Homo sapiens: one gene and its partner. The protein of the gene in region 2 purifies or fractionates together with the protein of the main gene of each other region. This does not show direct contact. Each region holds a gene or a part of one and is shown on either strand. Other genes may lie near its edges. The genes, in order: UBE2G1 and CYP3A4.

Evidence for each region.
Region 1: the proteins of CYP3A4 (region 2) and UBE2G1 purify together in Homo sapiens (affinity purification with mass spectrometry, with the first as the bait; one study listed by BioGRID). This does not show direct contact.

What each region holds. Positions count from the first base shown.
Region 1 is NC_000017.11:4,356,667-4,360,491, reverse strand, and holds part of UBE2G1 (ubiquitin-conjugating enzyme E2 G1), read left to right. Parts: intron 1-3,825. UniProt on the Homo sapiens protein: Accepts ubiquitin from the E1 complex and catalyzes its covalent attachment to other proteins. In vitro catalyzes 'Lys-48'-, as well as 'Lys-63'-linked polyubiquitination. May be involved in degradation of muscle-specific proteins.
Region 2 is NC_000007.14:99,774,181-99,778,005, forward strand, and holds part of CYP3A4 (cytochrome P450 3A4), read right to left. Parts: intron 1-3,825.

The DNA of each region.
Region 1 (3,825 bases), on a different chromosome or scaffold from region 2:
ATTGTTGCCTTTTGACTTCCTTTTCTCAGGTGAAGAATGTTTGATTGCACTGTCAAGATGAGTTTCAATCCTTCGCCTCTTTTGGTCTTGGGTACTTCAGTACAATTTTTTTGTTGGCAGGAGGGTACAGTGTGGGCATTCCTTTGCTTTAAGCAAGTAAAGTATTAATTAAGCACTCTTTTAATGAGATCAGTTTGATTTAGGATAAATAATTTGGCATTTCTTAATTATTGAAACCTTTTTTTTAGATTTAAATTTTTGTTAGAATTTAGATGACCTCTAAGGGTGTGTCTAATGTTACCTTTCATTGGTTTGTAGGAAATAACTTTTCAGAGAAGGAAGTGTGGGCTTATGGAAACAAATCTGGCAAGGTAAACATAGTGTAGTTTTATATGGTTAATAGCATTTCAGGTACAGAAAAGTACAAATCAGAAAAAGCAAACATTTTCCAAATTTTGGTAATGAATATGAATTATTGGTATAAACAGATAAATGATAAAGAATAAAATGTAGTTTCAGGAAATAAGATATTTAAATGTTACAATAAAACATTCTAAACTTTTTCCCCCTAGTGCAAGATAGTATTGGGCTAATTTGAGTTAATCAGCAGTTTTTTTTTGTTTGTTTTTTTTTTTTTTTTGAGATGGAGCCTTGTTCTGTCGCCCAGGCTGGAGTATAGTGGCGAGATCTTGGCTCACTGCAGCCTCTGCCTCCCGGGTTCAAGTGATTCTCCTGCCTCAGCCTTCTGAGTAGCTGGGACTACAGGCACACGCCACCACCCCTGGATCATTTTTGTATTTTTAGTAGAGATGGAGTTTCACCATGTTGGCCAGGATGGTCTCCTTGGCCTGCCTTGGCCTCCCAAAGTGTTGGGATTACAGGCGTGAGCCATCGCGCCCGGTCTAATCAGAAGTTTTTATCAGTGCTGTTCCATTGATAGATTCTGGCCCTCATAGAAACTTCTGGAAGAAATACTGTACTGTATTGCTGTTGCTGTAGAGATGTATACCTCTTTTTATAAAGTTATGTTCTAGATTTGCAACAAGTTAATTTTTGTAAGCGGAAATATTTTATTTTACCTTTTATTTAACCTTTATACCCATGTCCAGTGACTTAGAAAAACTGCTATTGCTGTATCTTTGCTTTTTTTCCTTTAGCTATTCTTATTTACTCTTCTATTGGCTAGGGATATGTTAAAAATACAAAAAACAAAGACCTTAAATTTTTACCTGGCAGCTGTTTGTTGTTTGTTTGCTTTAATCTTGTAAAACAAGACTGCTTTTAAGTAAGTTTATCAAATAGGAATTTTTAAAAAAGTTCTTTATGTCAGGAGACACTTTTCCTTTTATCAAATAGGAATTTTTAAAAAAGTTCTTTATGTCAGGAGACACTTTTCCTTTGCTTTTGAATGTACATGCATTTTAATTACATTATCATATTCTTATGTAAGGTATATATTTTCTAGGGTTTCTATGTTAAGACAGAGTAATGCTAGGCAAAGAGTTCTTTTTCCTTTTTTTTTTTTAATTTTATTTTTTTGAGATGGAGTTTCGCTCTTGTTGCCCAGGCTTAAGTGCAGTGGCACGATCTCGGCTCACCGCAACTTCTTGCCACCTGGGTTCAAGCGATTCTCCCACTGCAGCCTCCCGAGTAGCTGAGATTACAGGCATGGGCCACCACACCCAGCTAATTTTGTATTTTTAATAGAGACAGGGTTTCTCTATATTAGTCAGGCTGGTCTTGAACTCCTGACCTCAGGTGATCCACCTGCTTCAGCCTCCCAAAGTGCTGGGATTACAGGCGTGAGCCACGCGCCCAGCCAAGTTCTTTTTCAACTTGATGCCAAAAGCATGAGCCATAAAAGGAAATATTAGTAAACTGGACATCATGAAAATTAAGAATTTTTACCTGATTAAAGACTGTTAAGAGGATGCAAAGACAAGCTACAAACTGGAAGAACATTTGCAAATCACATATCTGGCAACTGATTGTATCTAGAATATTTAAAGAACCCTCAACAGTTTAAAAAAAAAAAGTCAATTCAAAAAAATGGGCAAAATTAGACAGGTGTGGTGGCTCTCATCTGTAGTTTCAGCTACTAGGGAGGCTTGAATAGGAGCATCGCTTGAGATGGGGATTTTGAGGCGGCAGTGAGCTGTGACTTCACCACCGCTACACTCCAGCCTGGGCCACAGAGCAAGGCCCTGCCTAAAAAATAAGGGCAAAAGACACCAAGAAACATTTCACTGAAGAGGACATACAAATAGCAAACAAGTGACAACATGTTCAACATTATTAGACATCAGGGAAATGCAAATTGAAATCACCGTAAGATATCACTACTTACCTGTTAGAATAGTTAAAATTAAAAAAACTGTAACACTAAATGCTGCCAGGGACTTGGAGAAACTTGAACTTTTATACATTGCTGGTGGGAATGTATAATTGTATATCCACTATAGATAGAAAACAGCTTGCTTTTTTTTTTCTTTTTTAAGAGACAGGGTCTCTCTCTCTTTGTGTCTACATATATCTTTTAAAAATTTTTTATAAAAATAGAGATGGGGTCTTGCTGTGTTGCCCAGGCTGGTTTTGAACTCCTGGGCTCAAGCAGTCCTCCTGTCTTGGCCTCCCAGAATGTTGGGATTACAGGTGTGAGCCACCACATCCAGTCTATTTTTTTTGTTTTTTTTGAGACAGAGTTCCGCTCTTGTTGCCCAGGCTGGAGTGCAGTGGTGGGATCTTGGCTAGATTGTCCTTCTTTATGGGTGGTCTTGGCACCTTTGTATAAAATTCTTGAAATGACAGAATTACAGTGATGGAGAATAGTGGTGTTCAGGGATTTAGGGACATGAGGGATATGTGGTATACAGTAACATGAGGGATCTTTGTGGTGATGAACAGTCTTGTATCTTGATAGTGATTACACACATCTGCAAATGTGATAAAATTGCATAGAGTTATACACCCACCCCCCCCCCCCACACACACACACACACAACCGAGTGATGACATCTGAATACAGTAGTCCTCCCTTATCTGCATGGGATAAATACTTTCCAAGACCTCCAGGGGATGCCTGAAACCACTGATAGTCCTGAACCTTGTGCTTTCTCCTATATATGCATACCTATGATAGGATTTAATTTATGTTAGTCTAACAACAATAATAACACAGAGCAATGATAACAATATGCCGGCATTACTACTCTTGCACTCTGGGGCCATTATTAAGTAAAATAAGGGTTACTTGAAACCAGGCACTGCTAAGTGATAGGCAGGAGGGACAGTGTGAGATTTCATCATGCTACTTAGAACAACACAAAATTTACAACTTAGGAATTGTTTATTTTTTCTGTTATTTTCCATTTAATATTTTCAGACTGGGCTTGACCACAAGTAATTGAAAATGCCGATGGGGCAGGGGTGGGGGGACTATAAAGTATATGGATTGCACCACTGTCGATTTCTTGGGTTTGATATTGTGCTAGAGTTATACAGGGTGTTAGCATTTGGGAGAAACTGGGTAAAGGTTACAGGAAACCTTTCTGTACAGTTCCCCCTTGTCCTATGGGACTGTATTTCAGAATAAGAAGTTTTTAAAAAAAGTCACCTGTAACCATGCATTATTATCAATCCTTTTTCAAATAAAGAACTTAATATTTGTAGTTATAAATACAACTACATGGTTGCTCTATTAACATGTTCAAGGAACAGGAAGTTGAAATAGAGAAACCTGTAGTTTAAGACAGAAATTCCGTCTTAATTTTATTTTTTTGTTATTATTTTTGAGACAAAGTCTTGCTGTGTTGCTCAGGCTGGTCT
Region 2 (3,825 bases):
TGAATTGAGGCAATTATTAATAGGCTACCAACCAAAAAAAGTCCAGGACCAAATGGATTCACAGCTGAATTCTACCAGAGATACAAAGAGGAGCTGTTATCATTCCTTCTGAAATTTTTCTGAACAATAGAAAAGGAGGGAATCCTCCCTAACTCATTTTATGAGGCCAGTATCTCCTGATACCAAAGCCTGACAGAGACACAACAAAAAAAGAGAATTTTAGTCCAATATCCCTAAAGAATATCGATGCGAAAATCCTCAATAAAATACTGGCAAATCAAATCCAGCAAAACATCAAAAAGCTTATCCACCAGGATCAAGTCAGCGTCATCCCTGGGATGCAAGGCTGGGTTCAAAATACCAAATCAATAAATGTAATCCATCACATAAACAGAACCAATGACAAAAACCACATAATTACCTCAATAGATGCAGAAAAGGCCTTTGACAAAATTCAACAGCCTTTCATGCTAAAAACTCTGAATAAACTAGGTATCAATGGAACGTATCTCAAAATAGTAAGAGCTATTTATGACAAACCCACAGCCAATATCATACTGAATGGGCAAAAACTAGAAGCATTCCCTTTGAAAACCGGCACAAGACAAGGATGTCCTCTCTCACCACTCCTATTCAACATAGTGTCGGAAGTTCTGAATAGGGCAATCAGGCAAGAGAAAGAAATGGATATTCAATTAGGAAAAGAGGAAGTCAAATTGTCTCTGTTTGCAGATGACATGATTGTATATTTAGGAAACCCCATCGTCTCAGCCCCAAAACTCCTTAAGCTGATAAGCAACTTCAGGAAAGTCTCAGGATACAAAATCAATTTACAAAAATCACAAGCATTCCTACACACCAATAATAGACAAACAGAGAGCCAAATCATGAGTGAACTCCCATTCACAATTACTACAAAGAGAATAAAATATCTAGGAATCCAGCTTACAAGGGATGTGAAGTTCTCCTCTTCAAGGAGAACTACAAACCGCTGCTCAATGAAATAAAAGAGGACACAAACAAATGGAAGAACATTCCATGCTCATGGGTAGGAAGACTCCATATCATGAAAATGGCCATACTGCCCAAGGTAATTTATAGATTCAATGCTATTTCCATCAAGCTACCACTGACTTTCCTCATAGAATTGGAAAAAACTACTTTAAAGTTCATATGGAACCAAAAAAGAGCCCACATAGACAAGACAATCCTAAGCAAAAAGAACAAAACTGGAGGCATCACGCTACCTGACTTCAAATTATACTAAAAGGCTACAGTAACCAAAACAGCATGGTACAGGTACCAAAACAGAAATATAGATCAATGGAACAGAACAGAGGCCTCAGAAATAACACCATGCATCTACTACCATCTGATGTTTGACAAACCTGACACACAAAAGCAATGGGGAAAAGATTTCCTATTTAATAAATGGTGTTGGTGAAACTGCCTAGCCATATGCAGAAAATTGAAACTGGACCCCTTCCTTACACCTTATACAAAAATTAACTCAAGATGGATTAAAGACTTAAATGTAAGACCTAGGACCATAAAAATCCTAGAAGAAAACCTGGGCAATACCATTCAGGACACAGGCATGGGCAAAGGCTTCATAAATATAACACCAAAAGCAATGGCAACAAAAGCCAAAATTGACAAATGGGATATGATTAAACTAAAGAGCTTCTACACAGCAAAAGAAACTATCATCAGAGCAAACAGGCAACCTACAGAATGGGAGAAAATTTTTGCAATCTATCCATCTGACGAAGGGCTAACATCCAGAATCTACAAAGAACTTAAACAAATTTACAAGAAAAAAAGCAAACAACCCCATCAAAAAATGGGCAAAGGATATGAACAGACACTTCTCAAAAGAAGACATCTATGCAGCCAACAGACATGTGAAAAAATGCTCATCATCACTGGTCATTAGAGAAATGCAAATCAAAACCACAATGAGATACCATCTCATGCCAGGTAGTATGGTGATCATTAAAAAGTCAGGAAACAACAGATGCTGGAGAGGATGTGGAGAAATAGGAACACTTTTACACTGTTGGTGGGAGTGTAAATTAGTTCAACCATTGTGGAAGACAGTGTGGTGATTCCTCAAGGATCTAGAACTAGAAATACCATTTGACCCAGCAATCCCATTACTGGGCATATACCCAAAGCATAAATCATTCTATGATAAAGACACATGCACACATATGTTTATTGCAGAACTATTCACAATACCAAAGACTTGGAACCAACCCAAATGTCCATCAGTGACAGACTGGATAAAGAAAATGTGCCACGTATACCCCATGGAATACTATGCAGCCATAAAAAAACAATGAGTTCATGTCCTTTGCAGGGACAAGGATGAAGCTGGAAACCATCATTCTCAGCAAACTATCACAAGATCAGAAAACTCAACACCACATGTTCTCACTCCTAAGTAGGAGTTGAACAATGAGAACACATGGACACGGGGAGGGAAACATCACACACTGGGGCCTGTTGTTGGGTGGGGGGCTAGGGGAGAGATAGCATTAGGAGAAATACCTAATGTAGGTGACAGGTTGATGGGTGCAGCAAACCACCATGGCACGTGTATACCTATGTAACAAAACTACACATTCTATGCATGTAACCCAGAACTTAAAGTATAATTTAAAAAACTAAAAATAAAAAATAAAATAAAATCACAGTCCATCAGCCCGCCAGTGGTTAAGAATATTCAGCATTTCTTCAAATTCAGCAGGAAGGTATAGACAAAGAAATGCTTATATACCCTTCTATTAAAAAGTCTTGGCTTAAATTTAATAACAAAACAGAATGAAAAGTTCCACACTTGCAGATAAAATTAAAAAACAACAACAGCAGAGTATAAATGGTTTGCCAATCTATTTCTCTATTATCTCTCAACCCTTCATTCAAAAGCACTTTAAATCCAAAGTCTAAATGAAAGAGTTTTGGCTTTTAATTGAAAGTGAATTGATGTGGGAAGGAGATGATATGATGTATTTATGAGCACATATTAGAAGGGTCTGAGACAACACATGTAATAAAAGGGCACCTAAGGAAAAAAAAAAAGAAGAGGGGAATAGGCAGACACTGGACAGAGCATGATGCTGTGAGTCCCTGGGCCACCAAAGTCTGGAGAAAAGTAATCACAATGCTCCCAGCCTAGTTCAGACTGTAGAACTTGACACCTGGTGACACATGGGATCCTTGGTAGGACAACCTTCGAAAAGTTTTACAATAACCAGTGTGAATGTTGTTAGAACCAAAATGATGTCACTAGTTGTGTGTGTGTGTGTGTGTGTGTGTGTGTGTGTGTGTGTGTGTAAAAACCCTGACAAATAAATCAAAGAAGGCTATGAAGAGAGGATTCTCATGCTTGTGTGCCTGATAACAAAACTATCACAAAAGACTCCGCAAAACTACAAGCTTGCACAAAGGCCATCCCAACATTAAAAAAAATATTTCTGCAAGGACACCTGCCCAGCAACTGCCTGTCCAACCTTGGTGAGGCGTCACCCTTGTTACTGATCTTTGTAGCGAAGGATAATTATTTCAAAACTGATAAGAAATCCTCCTCATATTTTCCTTGGAGCCTCTTTGTCTTGCTTTACTTCCCTGAATTTGCACATAGTTTATAAAGGCATGCAGATTCCCATTGCAATACTCTACACCCAAATAAATATCTTCTTCTTTCAGAGAACTTCTCTCTGTTTGTAGTTAGGTTGACAAGAGCTTCATCCCAAGAGGCTTTGGGCTGAGACTGTCCTCTGTGCAGTGGGGTAAACTCATCATAGAAACAAGTCTATCCAA